Homo sapiens: one gene and its partners. The protein of the gene in region 2 interacts with the protein of the main gene of each other region in a pairwise test. Each region holds a gene or a part of one and is shown on either strand. Other genes may lie near its edges.

Evidence for each region.
Region 1: the proteins of CLEC7A (region 2) and TMEM79 interact in binary tests that used the Homo sapiens proteins (3 or more experiments, as listed by UniProt).
Region 3: the proteins of CLEC7A (region 2) and FAM3A interact in a two-hybrid assay, tested with the Homo sapiens proteins (one large-scale study listed by BioGRID).
Region 4: the proteins of CLEC7A (region 2) and NINJ2 interact in binary tests that used the Homo sapiens proteins (3 or more experiments, as listed by UniProt).
Region 5: the proteins of CLEC7A (region 2) and CD53 interact in binary tests that used the Homo sapiens proteins (3 or more experiments, as listed by UniProt).
Region 6: the proteins of CLEC7A (region 2) and ARL13B interact in binary tests that used the Homo sapiens proteins (3 or more experiments, as listed by UniProt).
Region 7: the proteins of CLEC7A (region 2) and CALM3 interact in a two-hybrid assay, tested with the Homo sapiens proteins (one large-scale study listed by BioGRID).

Annotation. Positions count from the first base shown.
Region 1 is NC_000001.11:156,290,134-156,292,943, forward strand, and holds the end of TMEM79 (transmembrane protein 79), read left to right. Parts: intron 1-1,251; coding exon 1,252-1,465; 3' UTR 1,466-2,310; downstream 2,311-2,810.
Region 2 is NC_000012.12:10,120,200-10,123,699, forward strand, and holds part of CLEC7A (C-type lectin domain family 7 member A), read right to left. Parts: intron 3,165-3,500; coding exon 3,046-3,164; intron 1-3,045.
Region 3 is NC_000023.11:154,506,233-154,509,732, forward strand, and holds part of FAM3A (protein FAM3A isoform 1 precursor), read right to left. Parts: intron 2,421-3,500; exon of another isoform or gene 2,394-2,420; coding exon of another isoform or gene 2,366-2,393; coding exon 2,242-2,365; intron 2,116-2,241; coding exon 2,057-2,115; intron 1,654-2,056; coding exon of another isoform or gene 1,630-1,653; coding exon 1,579-1,629; intron 1,259-1,578; coding exon 1,174-1,258; intron 1,098-1,173; coding exon 971-1,097; intron 675-970; coding exon 579-674; 3' UTR 1-578. UniProt on the Homo sapiens protein: May act as a defensin against invading fungal microorganisms.
Region 4 is NC_000012.12:653,446-656,945, forward strand, and holds part of NINJ2 (ninjurin-2), read right to left. Parts: intron 1-3,500. UniProt on the Homo sapiens protein: Its role in unclear. In contrast to NINJ1 paralog, does not mediate plasma membrane rupture (cytolysis) downstream of necroptotic and pyroptotic programmed cell death.
Region 5 is NC_000001.11:110,890,148-110,893,647, reverse strand, and holds part of CD53 (leukocyte surface antigen CD53), read right to left. Parts: intron 2,257-3,500; 5' UTR 2,240-2,256; coding exon 2,177-2,239; intron 1,304-2,176; coding exon 1,115-1,303; intron 1-1,114. UniProt on the Homo sapiens protein: Structural component of specialized membrane microdomains known as tetraspanin-enriched microdomains (TERMs), which act as platforms for receptor clustering and signaling.
Region 6 is NC_000003.12:94,042,655-94,046,154, forward strand, and holds part of ARL13B (ADP-ribosylation factor-like protein 13B), read left to right. Parts: intron 1-360; coding exon 361-586; intron 587-3,500. UniProt on the Homo sapiens protein: Cilium-specific protein required to control the microtubule-based, ciliary axoneme structure. May act by maintaining the association between IFT subcomplexes A and B. Binds GTP but is not able to hydrolyze fit; the GTPase activity remains unclear.
Region 7 is NC_000019.10:46,607,806-46,611,282, reverse strand, and holds the end of CALM3 (calmodulin-3), read right to left. Parts: intron 3,460-3,477; exon of another isoform or gene 3,087-3,459; coding exon 2,943-3,086; exon of another isoform or gene 2,802-2,942; coding exon 2,695-2,801; exon of another isoform or gene 2,438-2,694; coding exon 2,302-2,437; exon of another isoform or gene 2,278-2,301; intron 2,186-2,277; exon of another isoform or gene 2,159-2,185; coding exon 2,130-2,158; 3' UTR 501-2,129; downstream 1-500. UniProt on the Homo sapiens protein: Calmodulin acts as part of a calcium signal transduction pathway by mediating the control of a large number of enzymes, ion channels, aquaporins and other proteins through calcium-binding. Calcium-binding is required for the activation of calmodulin.

The DNA of each region.
Region 1 (2,810 bases), on a different chromosome or scaffold from region 2:
TCCAGGATATATTAAATGGGGGAAAAATAAACATGCAGAGACAGTCTATATAGTATGCTGCCATACTTCAGAAAAGGGAAAAATAACTTTTTGCTCATATATGCACTTTTTAAAAAATCACTCAATGTATTATCACACTGGCTCTTCTTCTTCCTTCTTCCTCCTTTCTTTCTTCTTCTTCTTCCTTCTTTCTTCTTTTCTTCTTTCTCCAAGAAAAGCACACTGGTCTTTAAGAAAAAAATAAAAGAAAAAAATCTGCTGGGCATGGTGGCTCACACCTGTAATCTCAGCACTTTGGGAGGCCAAGGCACTTTGGTAGGCTGTGGTGGGAGGACTGCCTGAGCTCAGGAGTTGGGGGCTGCCACTGCACTCCAGCCTGGCTGACAGAGACCCCATCTATAATTTAAAAAAAAAAAAAAATAGGCCAGGCGCGGTGGCTCACGCCTGTAATCCCAGCACTTTGGGAGGCCAAGGCAGGCGGATCATCAGGTCAGGAGATTGAGACCATCTCGGGTGAAACCCCATCTCTACTAAAAATACAAAAAAATAGCCAGGCATGGTGGCGGGCGCCCGTAGTCTCAGCTACTCAGGAGGCTGAGGCAGGAGAATTGCTTGAACCCGGGAGGCGGAGGTTGCAGTGAGCTGAGATCGCACCACTGCACTCCAGCCTGGGTGACAGAGAGAGACTCTGTCTCAAAAATAAAAAAATAATAATAATTTAAAAAATCACTCAGTGCACAAGAAACCATAATATTGATGCCTGGGGTGGGGGTGGGGGAGAATAGGGTGGGAATCGGTAAAGGGAGGAAGATATTTTACTATACTCATTGAATTTGCTCAAACATTTTAAAGTTTGTACAGCCAGGTGTGGTGGCCCGCATCTGTAATCCCAGCTACTCAGGAGTCTGAGGTGAGAGAATCACTCAAGGCCAGAAGTTTGAGCCCAGACTGGCAACATAGCAAGACCATGTCTCTAAAAAAATAAAAATAAATCGAAAAGTAAATAAAAGAGGGAAAGGAATAACATACTCAACTTCATAAAGATGTGGGGAAGTCAAATCAATCACTTATAGTAATTAGCGCTGTGCCTAATACATGTTAAGTGCATAAACTTTGGCTGTATTTGGAAGTACCAGCCATACCCACCAACTGCATCTGCCTCCCCTATCTACTCCCCCCACCGTCAGCCTATTGCCAATCAGCTGACGCGCTTCCCTCGAGAGTAGCCTGACCCTTTTCTTGCCCCCATAGGCTGATCTACTGGCTGACCTTTGCCGTGGGCCGCTCCTTCCGAGGCTTCGGCTACGGCCTGACGTTTCTGCCACTGCTGTCGATGCTGATGTGGAACCTCTACTACATGTTCGTGGTGGAGCCGGAGCGCATGCTCACTGCCACCGAGAGCCGCCTGGACTACCCGGACCACGCCCGCTCGGCCTCCGACTACAGGCCCCGCCCCTGGGGCTGAGCCTCTCCGCCCTCGCCCTCGGAGTAGGGGGTAGCGGCTTGGGTCTGACACATCTTTGAACCTTGTGGCCAGGCCTGGACTTCGCCCCCAGGCCTAGGACCGCGGTGGGTGGAACCCTGCTACTGCCCCAACAGGGACTCCAATCAATCGGAGTTCTCCCCTTGCCGGAGCTGCCCTTCACCTTTGGGGCCCGAGACAGTCATAAGGGATGGACTTAGTTTTCTTGCAGGGAAAAAGGTGGACAGCCGTGTTTCTTAAGGATGCTGAGGGCATGGGGCCAGGACCAGGGGAGAGGCACAGCTCCTTCCTGAGCAGCCTCTCACCACTGCCACAAGGCTCCCTAATGCTGGTCTCTGCTCCACTCCCCGGCTTCCCGTGAGGCAGGAGGCAGAGCCACAGCCAAGGCCCTGACCACTTCTGTGCCAGTTGTCTAAGCAGAGCGCCTCAGGGACGCTGGAAATGCCTTAAGGATAGAGGCTGGGCATCACATCAAATGGGACTGTGGTGTTTGGTGAAAACCTTCCTGAGGATCTGGATTCAGGACCCTCCATGACTGGCCTATTTACTGTTTACAGCTGGCCAGTGCAGAGCTGCTGCTCTTTTACCTTTTTAGGCCCCTGTAACTTCCCACCTTTAAACTGCCCAGAAGGCATGCCTCTCCCACAGGAAGAGGGGAGCAGACAGGGAAATCTGCCTACCAAGAGGGGTGTGTGTGTCTTTGTGCCCACACGTGGTGGCTGGGGAGTGCCTGGATGGTGCGGTGGTTGATGTTAACCTAGTGTGTGTGTGTGTGTGTGTGTGTGTGTGTGTGTGTGTGTGTGTGTAACAATAAATTACTACCAGTCTTTGCTGGCTCTTTTTTCCTGTTTGTCCCCCAGTCTCGAGTGTCCCTTCCCTGTTTAATTCAGATGACGATAGAAACCTCCCAGCTCTACCTGGTGGAGCAGGGCTGGCAGGTTCCTTGGTTCCACAGCAAGGAAATGGAGCCTCAAACAGAAACTTGCCTTCCAAGCCCATCTCTTAGCCCTTCCATTCCCTGGAACCAGCCCAAGACCAGCCCAACAACACTCACACATCAAGAGACTGGAGCCCTGTGAAAAAAAATAAATCTATTTTCTTGCCTTCCAGGGCAGCCAACCAGTCAGAATGCCTCTCATTTAGGCCTGCAAGTCCCATCCAAGGGAAATGTGTGGAGATGCAAGAAGGCAACACCAAGGGGACCTTATCAATAGCCCTGTCCCCTGCCCGCCTCCAAAGTCCCCCAACAAAGTATGAAGGAAGCCCCACCTGGGGGTCTCCAGGAAGTCGAGGCTGGCCTCTGAGGTTCCACAGAAAAGCAAGATGG
Region 2 (3,500 bases):
TCAATGGGTCTGTAATGAATGTAACTGGGATTCCAGGAGAAGGGAAAAAAGATGGGGAAAAGCAAAATATGAAGCAAGTATGGCTGAGAATTTTTCAGTGCTGAGTAAACACATTAGTTTTAAAACATATATTACCTTCAAACAGATGACCTCTCAAAAACAACAGTAAAAAATAGAAAACAGTGGAATAATATATTTGAGTGGCTGAGAGGAAAAACAACAAACCTCTAATTCTATACTTACTGGAAATATCAGTCTTAAGAAAAAATACCTGTAATGTACAGTTGGAAAGGAAGAAAGAAATAAACAACTAAAATCATAAATATGTGGGCAAATTGAAATGAATACTAACTGCATAAATCTGTGCGCCACCTTGTCTGTCTAATTTTTATATCTTTTTTTTTTTTTTGTAGAGATGGGGTTTCACCATTTTGGCCAGGCTGGTATCGAACTCCAGAGATCAAGTGATCCGCCTGCCTCGGCCTCCCAAAGTGCTGGGATTATAGGCGTGAGTCCCCGCGCCCGGCCCAAGGGCTAGTTTTTTCTTTTTTCTTTTTCTTTTTTTTTTTTTTTAATACTGAGTCTGGCTCAGTCACCCAGGCTGGAGTGCAGTGGTGCGATCTCGGCTCACTGCAACCTCCGTCTCCCGGGTTGAAGCAATTCTGGTGCCTCAACCTCTGAGTAGCTGGGATTACAGGCGTCCACCACCACACCCAGCTGGTGACGCATAGCTGTAGTCCCAGCTACTCAGGAGGCTGAGGTGGGAGAATCGCTTGAACCCAGGAGGCAGAGGTTGCAGTAGGCCAAGATTGCCCCACTGCACTCCAGCCTGGGCGATAAAATAAAAATAAATAAATAAAAATAAATACATTAATATAATAGCATATAAATTGAGGAGAGAGTCAACAGAGTAAAGGAATGCTCTATGATTTTTATATTGGTCAGGAAGAACATAAAAATGTCAGTTAATGTTAGTCTTTGATGAGTGAAGTATACATGTGTAATTCCTAGAACAACTACTAAAAGATTAGTAAAAGAGATGTAAAAGACATGAAAGAGCACATTCCAAATGAACAGAAAAAAAAAACAGAATAAGAAAAAGTGTTAAATCGTCCAAAAAGGAGGAAAGAAAGGGGAAAAAAAGTAACAATTCTAAATCTTTATGTGCCTGATAACACGGCTTCAACACATCGAATAAAATGTTTACAGAACTGTAAGTAGAATCGCAGCGGAAGATTTCAACACAATTCTTTTCATATGGAAAGAGGAAGAAGCACGTAAAAATCACAGAACTACAAGCACGTGGAGCATGTTCTCTGATCACAGTGGAACTAAGCCTGAAACCTAAAACAAAGAGATAACCAGAAACACATATGTTTGTAAATTAAGAAATGCATTTCTAAATAACTCCTGGGTCAAAGAGCAGCTCACAGTGGAAATCAGAAAGTATTTTGAACTGAAAGACAATGAAAATACATTAAAATTATAGCCTTAAGTCTACATACTTGAGATAAAGGAAGGCTTAAATTCATGAGGCAAGCACCCAATACGAGAAGTTTGAGATGGAATAGCAAATTTAAAACAAATAAATTAGGTCAGGAGATCGAGACCATCCTGGCTAACACGGTGAAACCCCGTCTCTACTAAATATACAAAAAATTAGCCGGGCATGGTGGTGAGCGCCTGTAGTCCCAGCTACTCAGGAGGCTGAGGCAGGAGAATGGCGTGAACCCGGGAGGCGGAGCTGGCAGTGAGCCGAGATCGCCATTGCACTCCAGCCTGGGTGACAGAGTGAGACTCTGTCTCAAAAAATAAAACAAAATAAAATAAAAATAAATTAGATGGAAGGAAGTAATACAGATTAGAATAAAAGTTAATGAAAGAAATAATAAAAAGACAGAGTCAACAAAGTCAAAAGTTACTTTCTTTGAAAAACCAAATTGAACGGTACTCCTACTGAGACAGATGAAAAAACACACACAGGTGTGCACACACACACTAATAATAAGAACTTAAAAGAGACATATTTCATATTCTGCAGATATTAAAAAGCAAATGAATGACAACAGCAGTGACAGAAACCACATAATAAGGAATAATGTATCATCAGGCAAATGTGAAATACGTTTAAAATATCTTTCTAAAATGCAAAATGTGAAAATGTGGTTGCTTTTTAACTTAATAATAAGTCTCACACATTAACTATGTACAAGACACTGTGCTAAATTATTTTACTTTTATACCCATCTCACAATTCTAAGAGGAAAGCACTCTTTCTTTTTTTCTTTTTTTTTTTTTTTTTTTTTGAGTTGGAGTCTCACTGGAGTCTCACTCTGTCATCCAGGCTGGAGTGCAATGGTGCAATCTCAGCTCACTGCAACCTCTGTCTCCCAGGTCCAAGCAATTCTCCTGCCTCAGCCTCCTGAGTAGCTGGGATTTCAGGCAATGCCACCACACCCGGCTAAATTTTTAGTGGAGGTGGGGTTTCACCATGTTGGTCAGGCTGGTCTCAAACTCCTGACCTCAAGTGATCCGCCCACCTGGGCCTCCCAAAGTGCTGGGATTACGGGTGTGAGCCACCACACCTGGCCAAGAGCACCTTTCTATTCTTGTTTATGGAAAATGGGACTCAGAGAGGAAAAGTGACTTATCCCCAGTGTCACACAATCAGTGAGTGGGGTAATCATTAACCCAAACTGAGGCCTGGCTTCAAAACCCATGCTCTTAACCGGGGAGTTACACTGACTGACAGTGACTGCTCCTTGCCTGGACAACTTCAAACATGTCGATGCCTCCCTAGTAAGAAAACCAGAAGAATATCTGTGTTGATGCTACTAGATGGCCTCACTCTTTTTCACTCTAAGGTCCTCCTCATCTTTCTCCTCTTGTCCTAGTTCACTCTTTCTCTTCTTCTATATCTTTCTCCCTCTCTTTCTCATATATGGTGAGCAAATCAGGTTCTTAGCTGCTCGACAGAGGTTTTCATAGATGAGATGGAAACCTCTCTGAGAAAAAGGATGAAGCATTGTCTCTCCAAACACTTACAAGTTAGAAGAGAATGTTGATCCATCCTCCCAGAGCCATGGTACCTCAGTCTGGGGCCGAGAAAGGCCTATCCAAAATGAATTATCAGGTTGGGAAGACACTTGTTTTACTATAAATCCCTGTAATGAAACATATACAAATATATAATAAAGAGAGAGAGAGAGAGAGAAAGAAACTATTATCATGGACGCTGAGAAAAAGACAACTGATTGAATCACTTTGGTAAAGAATGCAAGGCCGGGCGCGGTGGCTCACGCCTGTAATCCCAGCACTTTGGGAGGCCGAGGCGGGTAGATCATGAGGTCAGGAGATCGAGACCATCCTGGCTAACAAGGTGAAACCCCGTCTCTACTAAAAATACAAAAAATTAGCCGGGCGCGGTGGCGGGCGCCTGTGGTCCCAGCTACTCGGGAGGCTGAGGCAGGAGAATGGCATGAACCCGGGAAGCGGAGCTT
Region 3 (3,500 bases), on a different chromosome or scaffold from region 2:
GGACTGTGATCGGGCTCCAGCTACTTCACCACCCCGGGCCAGCCTGCTCCAGGGGTCCCTTCCTGCTGAGAGCAGGCGAGAGGCAGTCAGGCTCATGAAGCAGCCACCGGGTTTGGCTCACTGGAAGGAATCACACTGGAAACATGTTTAGCCCGCAGTGCAGAGTGGCTCCAGAAGGGAGAGGTTCTGGAAGACGCCCCAACCTGCCGGGCTGCTCCCAGAGATGCACAGTGAGGGGCAGGCACCCAGGGCCGTTCCAGGACTCAAGATGGGGATGGAGATGGCGTGAGGAATGGAGGACAGGGCTAGATGGGCTGACCGGGGGGAACAGTGTTACGAAAAGGAGGCGGGTACCCTGGGCTCCCGTGACAAAGTGCGGCAGGGCTACCCCCTGCAGCCCCCATAGCCCCCACCACCTTGAGACCACGTTCTGGTCACTGCCTCGGAGCCCCGATGTGTTGGGGCCAGGGAGCGCTCCTGCCCGGGTGTGGGGTGTGAGCCTCAGCCTCTGTCCGCCCGGCAGCGCGCGTGCCTCCCTTGGTCTGGCCTCCCTCGGCCCGGTCCTGGCACTGGCCGTGCTAGCTGGCCGTGCTTCTCCGCGGGATACAGCCTTCCATCTCCAGCGCCTCGGGCCAGCCTTCGTACTTGTTGCTGTGCTTACTGTTCTTCACGTGCTGTGGGGAGGGGAGCAGAAAGTCATGACTTTGGCCCTCAGGGACAGGGGACAGGAGTGGACCAGGACCCAGGCTGTCAGTCAACTGTGCTGTGTTGGCCAACGGTGTACTCTCAGGGCACTTGGCCCCTCCACCCATCCCAGGGAAACATGGCATCAGCTGCACTGGCCCACCCCTCATAGCTGGACTGGGGACGGTCCCCTGCTGGGGCGTGAGCAGCTGGGGAGGCTCGTCGCATGCAGGCAGAAGGGGCGACAGGCTGCCCCGGTGGGGGTGATGCCAGGCACCCCCCATACCTGCTCAAAGGGGCTCTTGTTCTGCACACCCTTGGCCCCGACAAACACCCAGCTGTCCCGGAAGGCCAGCTCCTTGGCGTTCCTGCTGCCCAGCTCACTGAAGAGCTTTCTGGTCTCTTCATTCATCCTGCAGCATGGGAGGAAGGGGTGTCAGCTGTTGCTGCAGAAGGGCAAGGCTGAGGCTGGCCTCCCCAAGCACCTACTTGGTGGCTGGGTCGTCGTAGGATGCCACGAACACCAGGGTGCCTTCGTGCAGTGGCCGAATAAACTTCAACAGGTCGTTGACATCTGGGGGGGCAGGTGCCACGGAACAGGGGTCATCAGGCACCACTGAGCACCCTCCCACAAGCCCGTTCTCCAAACAAGGAAACAGAAGTAGGGATTGGGCCTGGGACATGCCCCGCCAAGGGACAGGCTGGTGTAGGAAGCTGAGGCATCCCCGTGACCTCCCACAGCCTCCAGACCAAGCTGGCGATGCCCCTGTCCTTTCTGAACCCACGGAGGTGACTGAGAAGCTCCAAGTACAGACAGAGAGAGCAGTGTCTCAGGGGAAGCTGCCCAGGTCATTTTGCTGCAGTCAAAATGCAAGACGCTGCGCTGCAACTCACCTCCGGCCCACATGTCAAAGGCCCGGGCCTCGATGAGCTCGCCGCTGACCCCTGTGTCAGGAGGGAGGGGCCCTGCTGGGTAAGCCAGGCCAGCCTCAGGGCACGGCAGGCGGGTAGCACCGGGGGTGGGGGGCAGCCCTTCTGGAAGCTTTCAAACAGTCCCCCAATATTCATCCATTTGTTCAGGCAGCTGCATCCCACCCCAAGCCGTGGTGCCTCTGTCTGGCATTTGAGGCCCTCCGGGGGCTCTCCATGAAGCACCCTCAACCTCCCAGAACCTTCCCTAGTTCTTTATTGCCATCATGCTTTTTTGTTCATTGGGTCACTCCTCTGTGGAGCCTTGCGCTTGCACAGACTCCTTCCCAGGCCTCCCTGGGAGATCTTGAATGGGAGGGGAAGGGAGGGCAAACACCCAGAGGCCTCCTGGGGAGGGAGCAGGGAAGGAGGGCGGCAGGCCACGCTCAGCCAGGGGCCTCACCGTTCACCAGGGCGATGTTCAGCCCGCGGCCCACGTTGTCCTTGACGCTGCTCATCAGCCTAGTTGGGGGGGGGTGGGGGGGACGGGGAGATCCCACATGGGCACGTCTGCTCCACTCTCCCTTGCAGACCCGGCCCTGGATCCCCCACTCCCTCCCTGATCCCCAGTCACCCCAGGGAGCTCACATCTTGTCCTCGAGGCAGATCTTGGGCCCAATGACGTTGGCGGCCCCGCTGACCACGCGGAAGGCCAGGTGCTCCTCAGGACACGGCTGGGGCAGGCCACACTTGTACTTCCTGGCCCGTGGCGCTGGGCAGGGATAGCAGGTGTTATCCATGGGCCTGGCCCTGAGGTCACCTGAGATCTGAAGGGGAGGTCAGGACCAGCACACATGGTAGAACAAGTGACCGCAGAGCAGGACACAAGTAGGGGGATGTGGCTCAGGCCGAGGCTGGGGACACTTCCATACTCTGTGTCCTACTGGTGAGGCCACAGGGACCCAAGACAGAAGGATTTTCTGTTACTGGTGGGAGAAAAGAAAGGATGCTGAGGGCTGGCCTGGGCCACTGCACAGCCAGGAACAAAGCAGGGGTGAAGTAAGTCAGGCTGGGGGTCTAGCTGCATGGATGAGGCCAACCTGAGCAAAGGCAGTGTGGCAGGGGGTAGTGTGGCAGGGGGTGCAGCCTGTCTCCCGATTTTGATGGGGGTTGGTTGGGAGGACTGGAGCAGGATGGCTTCTATTATGGGTTGAATTCTGTCCCCTCAAGGTATGCTGAAGTTCTAATCTGTGGTACTTCAGAATGTGATGTTTGCAAATAGGGCCTTTGCAGTTCAGATGGGGTCATACTGGAGTAGGTTGGGTCCTTAATGCAACATGACTGATGTCCTTATAAGAACAGAAGTGACAAAGACACACAGAGGGAAGACAGCCATGGTACAGTGGAGGAAGAGACAGGAGTGACACAGCCAGAGGCCAAGGTATGCCTGGGGCCACTGGAACCTGGGGAGGTCAGGAAGGACCCTCCTGTAGAACTTTCAGGGTGAGTAACGCCCTGCTGACACTTTGATTTCAGACTTCTGGCTTTCAGAATGGGGAGAGAATCCATTTCTGTTGTTTAAGCCACCCAGTTGAAATGGCAGTTCCAGGAAATGGATACAGGTTTTGGCACCAGGAAGTGTGGTGCTTAGGTAACAAATACCTAAAAATGTGGAAATGGCTTTGGAACTGGGTAGTCAGTAGAGGCTTGTCTTAGTCCATTTGCTGCTGCCATAACAGAATACCACAGACTGGGTAATTTATAAAGACAACAGATTCATTTGGCTCATGGTTCTGGAGGCTGGGAAGTCCAAAAGCATGGCGCCGGCATCTGGTGAGGGTCATCCCGTGGCAGAAAGGTGGAAGGTGGAAGCAAGCATATGAGACGCAGGAAAAAAGGGGGCTGAA
Region 4 (3,500 bases), 9.5 Mb from region 2:
TAAAATGAATGCCAGCAATGATACGTGGAACAGGATGGAGGAATTAGGATTGTTTTGTTATCATAAGGTACTCACACGATCCATGAAATGGTATAGTGTTATTTGAAAGTGCACTTGGATTTGTTGTACTTGTAAACTGCAAACTCCAGGGCAATAACTAAAAAAAGTTAAAAAAAAGTACAACTGATACACTATGAATGGAGATAAAACAGGAACATATAAAATGCTCAGTTAAAACCACCAAAGGCAAAAAAAAAAGTGGAAGACAAAAATAGGAGCAAAGAATGAGGGTAACAAATAGAAAAACAGTAACAAATGTGGTAGATCCAACTATATCAGTAATCACTTTGAATGTCAATGGTCTAAGTGCATAATTGAAAGGCAGAAATTGTCAGGATGGACACAAAAAGAAGACTCAACTGTATGTTGTCTACAAGAAACTCACATTAACCATAAAGATACATATAGATCAGCTGAGTGTGGTATCTCACCCCTGTAACCCAGCACTTTAGGAGGCTGAAATGGGAAAATCACTTGAAGCCAGGAGTAAGACTAGCCTGGGCAATATAGTGAGACCCCATCTCTACAAAGAATAAGAAAATAGCTGGGTGTGGTGGTTTGTGCCTGTAGTCCTAGCTGCTTGGGAGGCTGAAGTGGGAGGATTGCTTGTGCCAAGGCATTTCAGGCTGCAGTGAGCCAAGATGGTGCCACTGCACTCCAGCCTGGGTGATGGGTGATAGAGTAAGACCTTGTATCAAACAAAAAAAGACACATACGGATTAAAAGTAAATGGATGGGGTCAGGCACGGTGGCTCACGCCTGTAATCCCACACTTTGGGAGGCCGAGGTGGGCAGATCACCTGTCAGGAGTTCGAGACCAGCCTGACCAACATGGAGAAACCCCGTCTCTACTAAAAATATAAAAATTAGCCGGGCATGGTGGCACATGCGTATAATCCCAGCTACTCCGGACCTTGAGGCAGGATAATTGCTTGAACCCGGGAGGCAGAGGTTGCGGTGAGCCGAGATCATGCCATTGCACTCCAGCTTAGGCAACAAGAGTGAAACTCCGTCTCAAAAAAAAAAAAAAAAAAGAATTATACACCACACCAACTGGGGTTTAGTCCAGGTATGCAGGACTGGTTCAACATTTGAAAATCAATTAATGCTAGGTGCAGTGGCTCACGCCTTTAACCCTAGCACTTTGGGAGGCCGAGGTGGGTGGATCACCTGAGGTTGGGAGTTCAAGACAAGCCTGACCAACATGGAGAAACCTGTCTCTACTAAAAATACAAAATTAGTCGGGCGTGGTGACACCCGCCTGTAATCTCAGCTGCTCGGGAGGCTGAGGCAGGGGAATCACTTGAACCTGGGAGGTGGAGGTTGCAGTGAACTGAGATCAACTATTGCACTCCAGCCTGGGCAACAAGATCCAAACTCCATTTCAAAAAAAAAAAAAGAGAATAAAATAAAAACAAAAGAAAATCAATTAATGTAATTAATCACACCAACTGACTAAAAAAGAAAAATCACATGATCATATTAATAGATGTAGAAAAAGTATTTGGCAAAATTCAACACCCATTCATGATAAAAACTCTCAGTACACTAGATAATTTCCTCAATTTGATAAAGAATATCTACAAAAAGCCTATAACTAACATCATACTTAATGATAAGAAAGTAGAAGCACTCCCACTAAGATTAGAAACAGGCAAGGATGTCTCCTGTCACCACTGCTTCATACATTGAATTTGCATTCAGTATGAACAAGTCTTAGCAGTTTCCCAGTCTTTGCTAGGAAGTCCTAGTAAATGCAATGTAGTTCCTTCAGAAAAAGGAAATGAAGGGACTACAGATTGGGAGTGAAGAAATAAAACTATCTCTGTTTGCAGATGACATGATTGTCTATGTAGAAAATCTAAATGAACTGACCAAAAATCTGCTGGAACTAATAAGCAATTATAGCAAGGTTGCAGGATACAAGGTTAATACATAAAATGCAATCACTTTCCTATGAAACAGCACTGAACAAGTAGAATCTGAAACTTAAAACACTACCATTTACATTAGCACCTAAAAAAGTGAAATGCCTATGTATAAATCTAACAAAATATGTACAATATCTATTATGAGGAAAACTACAAAACTGATTAAATAAATCAAGGAACTAAATAAATGAAGGGGACAAGCGCGGTGGCTCACGTCTGTAATCTCAGCACTTTGGGAGGCTGAGGCGGGTGGATCACTTGAGGTCAGGAGTTCGAGACCAGCCTGGTCAACATGGTGAAACCCTGTCACTACTAAAAATACAAAAATTAGCTGGGCATGGTGGCACGCACCTGTAATCCCAGCTACTCAGGAGGCTGAGGCAGGAGAATTGCTTCAACCTGGGAAGCGGAGTTTGCAGTGAGCTGAGATTGTGCCACTGTACTCCAGCCTGGGTGACAGAGCAAGACTCCATCTTAATAAATAAATAAATAAATTTATAAATAAATATAAAATAAATAGATAGATAGATATTCCATGTTTATGGATAAGAGGACTCACTATAGATTCAAACAATCCCAATCAAAATCAGTTGTGAATATCAACAAACTAATTGTATAGTTAGTTTATATAGAGAAGCAAAAGACCCGCAGGGCGTAGTGGCTCGCGCCTGTAATCCCAGCACTTCGGGAGGCTGAGGTGGGTGGATCATGAGGTCAAGAGATCGAGACCATCCTGGCCAACATGGTGAAACCCCATCTCTACTAAAAATACAAAAAATTAGCTGGGCGTGGTGGTGGGCACCTGTTGTCCCAGCTACTTGGGAAGCTGAGGCAGGAGAATCACTTGAACCCAGGAGGCGGAGGTTGCAGTGAGCCAAGATTACGTCACTGCACTCCAGCCTGGAGACAGAGTGAGACTCTGTCTAAAAATAAAATAAAATAAAATAAACCCAAAATAGGTGACAAAATACTGAAGGAAAAGAACAAAGTCAGAGGACTGACACTACCCGACTTGAAGAATTACTGTAAAGCGGCCAGGCATGGTGGCTCACACCTGTAATCCCAGCACTTTGGGAGGTAGGGTCTGGTGGATCACAAGTTCAGGAGTTCGAGACCAGCCTGGCCAAGATGGTGAAACCCCATCTCTACTAAAAATACAAAAATTAGCCAGATGTGGTGGCGGGCCCCTGTAATCCCAGCTACTCGGGAGGCTGAGGCAGGAGAATCGCTTGAACTTGGGAGGTGGAGGTTGCAGTGAGCCGAGATTGCGCCACTGCACTGTAGCCTGGGTGACAGAGCAAGACTCTGTCTCAAAAAAAAAAAAAAATTACTGTAAAGCTACAATAATTAAGACAATGTGTTTTGGACAAAGAATAGACAAATAGATCAATGGAACAGAATAATGAACCCAGAAATAGACCCAACTGATCTTTGATAAAGGAACAAAGACAATACGATGTAGCAGAGATAGTCTTTTCAACGAATGGTGCCAGAATAACCGGGCATCCA
Region 5 (3,500 bases), on a different chromosome or scaffold from region 2:
CTCCAGTTTAAGAGTTGACCCATACAGACTGGGCGCAGTGGCTTACGCCTATAATCCCAACACTTTGGGAGGCCGAGGCAGGTGGATCACCTAAAGTCGGGAGTTAGAGACCAGCTTGACCAATATGGAGAAACCCTGTCTCTACTAAAAATTCAGAATTAGCCGGACATGGTGGCGCATGACTGTAATCCCAGCTACTCGGGAGGCTGAGGCAGGAGAATGGCTTGAACCCGGGAGGCGGAGGCTGTGGTGAGCTGAGATCATGCCATTGCACTCCAGCCTGGGCAACAAGAGTGAAACTCCATCTCCAAAACAACAACAAGAAGAAAAAAACAAAACAAAAAACCACCACCAAAATGTTGAACCATAATGGAAAAAAGATTAACCAAATGATTTAAGGAAGAACCAATGTGATTAGAAACCCACGCCTATTGGTAGAGTGGCACTGTTACACCAAGCTCTGTTCTGGGAACACTACAGAAATGTAGAGCTCAGTGCTCTACAGGCACTGTGCTTACAGGCAAAACCTAAGCCTTAAGGTACTCCTCAGGATAGTACCTGATAGGGAACATGCAAAAGGCTGTAGCATCTCTCACATTAGACCTCAATGGCTGCAGCCAGAGCCCTCACCTAAGTTGGATCTCTCTACGGAGTATCTTGTGCAGACATGAGTTAAGGAAGCATCCTTTGGCATTTGGGGAGGAAAGAGCCTAGAAATTATTTTCCATTAGTTAGCGACTCTCAGTCAGAATCTGAAAGTACATAATAATAGCTAGCATGAGGAGGATTTTGGAAGATGGATGACACCTGATTTCATCCAGACATAAAGAAAAAATAAAATGCTATAAAGGGGAATTACAATAATGACAAAAGTCATTATTAGCAATATAAAAATGGCTACAAGGGGGATAGCAATGCCCTCTTTCACCTGTCCGTGGGACCCTAGTCATACATAATATACTATTGGTCTGGGCAGACTTGGCTGATCTGAGGTACCAATCTCATTTTCCTATGATCTTTCTGTGCCTATAAGTGATCTACCAAGAAACATCTTGCCTGGGATTTAGGCACCATCTCCCCGACTTGGGGCACCACATCTGCTGTAAGGACTCACCGACATAAGCAGACACTTGTTTTCCTTGATAGAGCCCATGCAGCCCAGGAAGGCAACTACCATGATAATAGAGCCCACGATGACAAACACATTGCCCAGCGTGAGGGAGGGGAGGTTATGGAAGAGCACTCCGAAGTTGTTGTGGATCAGCAGGTAGATCCCAAAGCCCAAAATGCAGCAGCCACAGATCTGAAAGGAAGAATCCCACAACATCCTGAAGCAAAATGTGGTTCTTGGGTATCTCCTCATATTCTCACTTCCTTGAGATCAGAATCACTTTATTTTTAACTGGCTCAATCAAGAGTCTCATGAACAATTTCTTTACCAAACTTTTCCATGCTTACATTGGAGAGGCAATCTCAGCTTTCTCATGTGGAGACCTACTCACAACTCTTCCTACCCATCTCCAGATACCAAGGAAAGATCACTTCTGTGAGCCACACAGTATCTTCACCATATATAGGTCTAACTTCTTTTTCCTTATCTTTTCAGTCGCTCACACATGGCTTTCTCTGTAGAAACCATGACCATGTAGAGAAGATGCCCTGCTTGAGGAAGCTCATCTTGCTAGGCAGAAAACTAGAGAAGCCAAACTTATAATAATCTTCTCATATACACAAGTACCAACCCATCCTATATCTGAAATTCAATTGCTGAATTTTATACAGTGAAACCTCCCTGGAAAGGGTGACTTTCCTTTCAATCACTTATTGTTTCAAGGAATCTAGAAAAAAAGACAAGAAAAACAGAGGCACTCAATATCCAGAGCACAGTCTCAGGTTTCTCACCTATATATGTTAGCTACGAGTAGTAGTAAACTAAAGCCCTCAGAGAGAAACAGCACCTCCATTAATAACTGCACTGGTACCTTTCAATTTTGCAGGTTTATTCTGTGGCAGGAAGAGGGGAAAAATTATTACTCTTTTGTTTCTAGGATGGTTGTGCTGGACATGACCCAAACACGCATGCATTTTACCCCACACCAGCCTCTTCAGTAGAGGAATGAGGAGAGCTTAGCTGGGTAAAGGTGAGCTAAACCGTGCTCAGAAGAGATACACTTACCCAAAAGAGCAAGTTGAAGAAAAACAGGACATACTTCAGCAGTTTCAAGCTACTCATGCCCATGCCGTGATATTCTTGCCCTAAGGAATAAGGAAGAAGAAAGTAAGTTACCTCACTCTGTAAGGTAGCCAGAGATCAGAGTGCACAAATGTTCAGGGATCTCTAGCATTACCTTGGGTTTGAGCTGTGGCTCTCCTCTGGAAAGTTTCCCCAAACTCTGCGCTTTCCTAGTTCTAAACTGAAATACCAACTGGCTCATCTTAGACATTCAGTTTTTGCCCAATTCGGCAAGCCAACAATGCTTAACATTGAATTAAGTATTGTAGAAGAAAATAGAGCCATTCTTAGAAGAGGATGAGTCACAGTGACAGAGACCAGGCCAGTGCTTTAGCTCTAACTGCAGCATTAGCAACTAGTGCCTGGGCACTTAAGCCCTTGAAGTCAGGGATGGACTGGTCAATCAGCCATCAAGAAAGCCAACAGCTTGATCAGCCAGTTTCTTAAATACTCTGTGATTTATGTACATGCTACATTTGATCAGTAAACTTCTCCACATGAAAGTAGGGGGAACATATCCACGCCTCATTTATTCTTTTATTGCAGAAACATTTATGTTTTCTGTTCTAGATGTTGTGGAAGATGCAACCATGACTAAGCAGTAGCTATCCTCCAGAAGACAACAGTCTTACAGCAAAGATAAAACAAGCCAACAAATATGCAATGGGGAAGTAAAAAGAGATAGCAATGTAAGCTTTATTTTTTTCAACTAGAATATCATTTTCTTAGTGAGGACATCAATGTCCAATGTCTGGTTCTCAATTCTAGAAATCCAGATACAGAATTTTGACTTTTCCTTTTCGCTTTCCTTTCCTTTCTCTTTCTCTTTCTCTCTTTCTTTCTTTCTTCTTTCAGGGTCTCAATCTGTCACCCAGGCTGGAGTGCAGTGGCACAATCTCAATTCACTGCAACCTTCACCTCCCAGGCTCAAGTGATCCTCCCACCTCAGCCTCCCAGGTAGCTGAGACTAAAGGCATGCACCATCATGCCCGGATAATTTTTGTATTTTTAGTAGAAACGAAGTTTCACCATGTTGCCTAGTCTGGCCTCAAACTTCTGACCTCAGGTGATCCGCCTGCCTCGGCCTCCCAAAGTGCTGGGATTACAGGCATGAGCTACCGCACCTGGCCAGAATTTTGAATTTTCTGTCAGAGGTAATGATATTCTATAAAGTGACTCATTTTTAAAACCGTGCACAGGACTGATATATCAAGCAGAATGTTGGGGCAGTGATTTTTTTCCATTAAAATTATGCCTTTTCCAGTGC
Region 6 (3,500 bases), on a different chromosome or scaffold from region 2:
TGGGTGATGTATGTCTGTACATGATATAGGTATGTATGTGTGGGGGTTGGCAGAGAAAATCATCTCTTAGTGATTATATACTGAACAGATTATATACGGAATAATACAGATGAATAGTAGTCATCTCTAGATTGTGGAATTACTGGTAATATTTGTTTGCTTTTGTTATACTTTCTGTTTTACTGAATGTTTGACATTTAGCATCTTTTAATGATGTATTCATGAAATCATTTTTAAAATAGAAGTCTCACAGTGTCCTTGAAGTTACAGAATCCTGTTAAGGTATTTGATTTCCTCTCCCTTAAAACTATCTTAGATAAAACCATCATAGTAAAGATAATGTATTTTATTTTTTGTTAGAATGAAGGAAAACTTGAAAGAGAGAAAAAAAACCAAAAAATGGAGAAAGACAGTGATGGCTGCCACCTGAAACATAAAATGGAGCATGAGCAAATAGAGACACAAGGCCAGGTTAATCACAATGGCCAAAAAAATAATGAATTTGGACTAGTAGAAAATTATAAGGAGGCATTAACACAGCAGTTAAAGAATGAAGATGAGACAGACCGGCCATCATTGGAATCAGGTAATAAATCTAGTTATTTAAAGTAATTATCTTATGTATATATAAATAAAACTTATACTTCATCTCATTTTTTATGTTTGTTTTTACAAACGAGTACTTCAATATTTTTCTGTCTTCAAATGCCATATTTACCATGATTTTCTCAAGGTCTTTTATTATTCAGTTTGTTCCTAACCTGTTTTTCCATGACTTAAAATGTGGTCCTTTGTAACTTATAAGGATTTCAGCAGAAAATTCCATTTTTATTTTCATAAATTTGGGATACAGCATAGCTCTCAAGAATCCTTGGAATAGCCCTCCCCCTCCTCCCCCTCCCCCCTCCCTCTTCCCCTCTCCCTCTTCCCCTCTCTCCCTCCCCCTCCCCCTCTCCCCCTCCCCCTCCTCCCCTCCCCCTCCCTCTCCTTCCCTCCCCCCTCCCCTTTCTTTCTTTCTTTCTTTCTACAGTCTCCCTCTCTTGCCGAGCCTGGACTGTACTGCCATGATCTCGGCTCACTGCAACCTCCCTGCCTCGGGCTCCTGTGATTCTCCTGCCTTAGCCTGCCGAGTGCCTGGGATTCCAGGCACGCGCCGCCACTCCTGACTGGTTTTTGTATTTTTGGTGGAGATGGGGTTTCGCCATGTTGACCGATCTGGTCTCCAGCTCCTGGCCTTGGGTGATCCGCCCACCTCGGCCTCCCGAGGTGCTGGGATTGCAGACGGAGTCTCGCTCACTCAACGCTCAATGTTGCTCAGGCTGGAGTGCAGTGGCGTGATCTCGGCTCGCTACAACCTCCACCTCCCAGCCGCCTGCCTTGGCCTCCCAAAGTGCTAAGATTACAGCCTCTGCCTGCCCGCCACCCCGTCTAGGAAGTGAGCAGCGTCTCTGCCTGGCCGCCCATCGTCTGGGATGTGAGGAGCCCCTCTGCCCGGCTGCCCCATCTGGGAAGTGTGGAGCGCCTCTGCCTGGCTGCCACCCTGTCTAGGAAGTGAGGAGTGTCTCTGCCTGGCCGCCCATCATCTGGGATGTGAGGAGCGCCCCTGGCCGGCCGCCCTGTCTGGGAAGTGAGGAGCGCCTCTGCCCGGCCGCCCCGTCTGGGAGGTGAGGAGCGCCTCTGCCCGGCCGCCACCCCGTCTGGGATGTGAGGAGCGTCTCTGCCCAGCCGCCACCCCATCTAGGAAGTGGGGAGTGCCTCTGCCCGGCTGCCCTGAATGGGAAGTGAGGAGCGCCTCTGCCCGGCCACCCCGTCTGGGAAGTGGGGAGCGCCTCTGCCTGGCTGCCCCGTCTGGGAAGTGAGGAGCGCTTCTGCCTGGCCGCTCCATCTGGGAGGTGAGGAGCGCCTCTGCCTGGCCGCCACCGCATCTGGGAGGTGAGGAGCGTCTCTGCCCGGCCGCCACCCTGTCTGGGAAGTGGGGAGCGCCTCTGCCCGGCTGCCCCATCGGGTAGGTGAGGAGTGCCTCTGCCCGGCTGCCCATCGTCTGGGAAGTGAGGAGCGCCTCTGCCCGGCCACCCATCGTCTGGGAGGTGAGGAGCGCCTCTGCCCGGCCGCCCCGAATGGGAAGTGAGGAGCGCCTCTGCCCGGCCGCGCCGTCTGGGAAGTGGGGAGCGCCTCTGCCCGGCCGCCCCGTCTGGGAAGTGAGGAGCGTCTCTGCCTGCCCGCCCCTCGTCGGGGAGGTGAGGAGCGCCTCTGCCCGCCGCCGCATCTGGGAGGTGTACCCAACAGCTCCGAAGAGACAGTGACCATCAAGAACGGGCCATGATGACGATGGCGGTTTTGTCGAAAAGAAAAGGGGGAAATGTGGGGAAAAGAAAGAGAGATCAGATGGTTACTGTGTCTGTGTAGAAAGAAGTAGACATAGAAGACTCCATTTTGTTCTGTACTAAGAAAAATTCTTCTGCCTTGGGATGCTGTTAATCTATAACCTTACCCCCAACCCTGTGCTCTCTGAAACGTGCTGTGTCAACTCAGGGTTAAATGGATTAAGGGCGGTGCAAGATGTGCTTTGTTAAACAGATGCTTGAAGGCAGCATGCTCATTAAGAGTCGTCACCACTCCCTAGTCTGAAGTACCCAGGGACACAAACACTGCGGAAGGCTGCAGGGAGCTCTGCCTAGGAAAACCAGAGACCTTTGTTCACGTGTTTATCTGCTGACCTTCTCTCCACTATTATCCTATGACCGTGCCACATCCCCCTCTCCGAGAAACACCCAAGAATGATCAATAAATACTAAAAAAAAAAAAAAAGAAAGAAAGAAAAAAAAGAGTTAAAATGCCAGAGCCCCCAACTGATCTGTAGATTTAAGGCAATTCCAAACAAATCCCAGCATGAGTCTTTGTAGATATAGGCAAGTTCATTATAAAATATATGTAAAAGTAAAGGACTGGAATACCCAAAACAATTTTGAAGAAAGATCAAGGTTAAAGACTCATACTACCCAATTTAAGACATACTATAAAGTAGTGGCCGGGCACAGTGGCTCATACCTGTAATCCCGACACTTTGGGAGGCTGAGGCGGGAGGATCACGAGGACAGGAGATCGAGACCACAGTAGAGACCCCGTCTCTACTAAAAATCCAAAAAATTAGCCAGGCGTGGTGGTGGGCGCCTGTGGTCCCAGCTACTCAGGAGGCTGAGGCAGGAAAATGGCGTGAACCTGGGAGGCAGAGCTTGCAGTGAGCCGAGATGGTGCCACTGCACTCCAGCCTGGGCAACAGAGCAAGACTCCATCACAAAAAAAAAAAAAAAAAGAAAAAAAAAAGACATACTATAAAATAAAACCACAGTGATCATAACAGTATAGTATTGACTAGAGGATAGACACAGAGATCAATAAAACACAATAGAGATTCTAGAAATAGATCCCCAAAATATGGTAATTTTAATGAGTTTCATTGAGGTATAATTGACTTACAACAAACTGCACATATTTATAGT
Region 7 (3,477 bases), on a different chromosome or scaffold from region 2:
GCTCGGGGCTCTCACCCAGTCTCGCTGGATTTCCTTCAGTTCCTTGATGTCTGGGCTTCTCTTGCCTCAGGGCTTCCATACATGTCGTCCCCCCGAACTGGAATGCCCTTCCGTCCTTCCCCTACCCGGCTAGGGGACTGCCCATCTTTCAGGTAGGTCTCAGCTCAGTCCTGCCACCTGACTGGGCTGACCCCTTCTCTGTGTGCTCCCATGGCATGATGGGCCTGCCTCAGAGGAGCCTTCTCAGTCCCCGCCTTTCAGTCCATTTGTGCGACTATCTCTAGGACAGGACCCTGCCGTTGATGACCCTGCGATCTAGCTGGGATCAGAACTGTGGTTCAGAGGCGTCCACTGGGCTGCACTGACTGGACACAGCTTCAGAGCCAGCTTTGAGGAGAGGCTCTTCCACCTCTGGGCCAAAGGAGTCAGTGCTGGGGTTGGTGTGTATGTGTGTTGGAGGGGGGCAGGCCAGAAACTGAGACAGGAGGAGAGGAGCCAAATCAGGTAGTCACTGTATTTTATTGGAAAACATTGATATATATTTTTCTTCACAGCTTGAACTGAACACAATATTGCCCGGTTTAAAAAAAACAAAACCAAAACATTCCGAAAATGTCCACAGCCTCACGCCTACCTGCCCTTACCCTCAGCTCTTGGCTGGGTCTCCCACTATGCCCCATCCCTCCTTCCCTCAGAGGCTGGGTGCCAGAGGGTGGATGAGAAGAGATTCTCAAAGCTGGGCAGGTCCCAGGAAAAGCCACTTGATCGACCTGGGCAGTGAGGGGAAGCAGGGGGTGGGGGGTGGGGTGGGGAGGTGGTGGGGGGAGCCAGATGAAATGAACAGAAAAGGGGAAAAAACCCAGACGACTGAACTGCCCACATTGACTTACTTGTCCCAGAGGCGAAAGTCAGAAGCAAGGGCACGGATCATGCTCTCCGCTGGGGGAGTATGGGGGCAGGCAGGTGGGCGAGGGAAGAGGCAGGGAAGAGGGCACGGAGCACAGATGTGAGGAAGCGGCGCCAAGTCACCACGGAGAAGCGGGAGGTGCTGGCGGACCAGGACGCAGAGGCTGCTGTAGCTGCCGTCCCCTGGGCAGCTGGCCGACAAGACTGTTTTATTGCAGGTGCGTTCTCTTGAGAGCGTGGTGGGGCCCATCTTCCCTCTCCCCACCCTTTAGCTAGCCCAGCATGGTTCTGAACAAAATGAAAGTCTTAAGGGCCATAGAGGGGAAAGAAAAAAAAAGAGAACCAGCACATTACAAAGCGACCATCCCCACATCCATTCCTAGGACGGGCCCTCAGGGCGGTGGGTGCATCGTGAGGAGGGAGCGGCATGGGATGTTAGCACCAGGTATTTACAGAACAGCTCGAGAGCGCTTCAGGAACGCGGGCAAGTCCAATTTGCAGAGTGGCCAAATGAGCAGTCCCCACCCAGCCAAACCTCAGAAAGCCAATCAGATGGTTTCAGAACAGCAGCCAGTGGGATGTGAGTGTTGCCCACTGTCAGTCCCCTTCTGTGAGTTGGCCCCCTCGACCCCCTCCTGGGCCACATCCAGTCAACGCCACAATTCCTCAACGCCCCCTCAGTCCTTCTGGAATGCCTCTCTTGGCACCCCTGCCCCAACAGGCTGCTGGGATCTGCACGTGGAATCACAGGGCTGGTTGCATGCAACGGCAAAGGGCATGCTCTTCTGCCTGGGGGAGGGCCTCTTGTCCCTCCCAGCAGGTCCCGGGACAGGGCTGGCAGCCACCCCAGCACCCAAAATAAGATGACAAACAAGAGGAAACAAACCAAAATGGAGGAGAGCCATCCGGGCTGGAGGAGGGCAGAGGCTCCCCAAGGGGATCTGGGGAGGGCTTCAACTTATGAATGCATCAGGCCTTGGAAGACATGGATGGAAGAGGCGAGGGCAAAAGGAAGAGATGAGGGGCATGGAGAGAGACTCAGGGAAGAAGGAGAAAGAGCAATCATGCAGCTTGGGACAAATCTTTTGTTGCTTTATCAGATTCTCAGTCAATCAATTGGTGTTTGCTAGAACCGGGGTACGCAGGGGAGTGTTGAAGAGAGAGTGCGCGCGCGAGAAGAGAGAGATCAAGAGAACGGGCATCGCCAGCTGCCCGGGGGGCCTTCACTTTGCAGTCATCATCTGTACAAACTCTGTGGAGTGAAGCAGAGAGAGAGGAGGTCAGGCGGGCAGGCTAAGTGGCGAGCGGCCCTCCCCAACAAGAGGGATCTGGGGGCTTGTTCCTGAAGCTGCGATTCTCTTCTTGTTCCAGAGATCAAGCCTGGCCTTGACTCACCTTCATAATTGACCTGGCCATCTCCATCGATGTCAGCCTCCCTGATCATCTCATCCACCTCCTCATCGGTCAGCTTCTCCCCCAGGTTCGTCATTACGTGACGCAGCTCTGCGGCGCTGATGTAGCCATTCCCATCCTGGGGGTTGGGGATAAAGCCTTTCACTGGGCACTTCTCCCGGTGGGGAGAGAGGCAGTGAGAGGGGTGGCTGTCATCACCATCCCTCAGCAGTGAGCACAGTGAGGGAGGCTGCCTGAGGTGGCAGAGCAGGTTGGCAATGAGGCTGGCACCGGGACCCGGACCTCCTGGAAGTGGTAGCTCCGTGGCTCCAGTTCCGCCTGTCTGCCTGAAGGCTGGCGTCAGTCTCAGAGCCGCCCCTGGAGAGGGCTGCTTACCTTGTCAAAGACACGGAACGCCTCTCGGATCTCCTCCTCACTGTCTGTGTCCTTCATCTTTCTGGCCATCATGGTCAGGAACTCCGGGAAGTCAATGGTCCCGTTCCCTGGAAGGTGGGGAAAGGATGGAGAATGCTCTTGGCCTGGGCCCTGAGAGACACGGGCTCATCCATCACCCTGAGAGAGGCTCCCTGCAGTCACTCGGGGTGACCAGGAGCAGGGCTGCCCACGCGCTCTGTGGGGCTCACCATCTGCATCCACCTCATTGATCATATCCTGCAGCTCTGCTTCAGTGGGGTTCTGTCCCAGGGATCTCATCACTGTCCCCAACTCCTTGGTGGTGATAGTGCCATCTCCATCCTTGTCAAAGAGGGAGAAGGCCTCCTTGAACTCTGGGGGAAGAAGGGGGAGGAGTCAGAGGTCACAAGGTCCACAGGAGAATCCTTACCTCTGGATGCTGGATGCCTTCCCTGGAGGAAGGCCAAGGGCATCAGTCCCACCTAAAGAAACTGAGACAGACTTCAAGTCCCACGCAACCAGCTCTCTCTCCTCAGTGCTCAGGGCAAAGCCCTTCCAACCTTCATTCAACAGTTATTGAACATCAACACTGTGCTAGGTGAAGCTATTTTTCTGGCCAGCCAGTGAAGACAGTGGGGAAAATGGTCTGACAGCTGTCCTTAGATGATTCTACATTTCTGTTTGGTCCCTGGCTTTGACTTCTCCCTTGAAATGATGAAATGAACCAAAGTCATGGAGTGAATGAGAGCCGAAAGGATTCTTTGT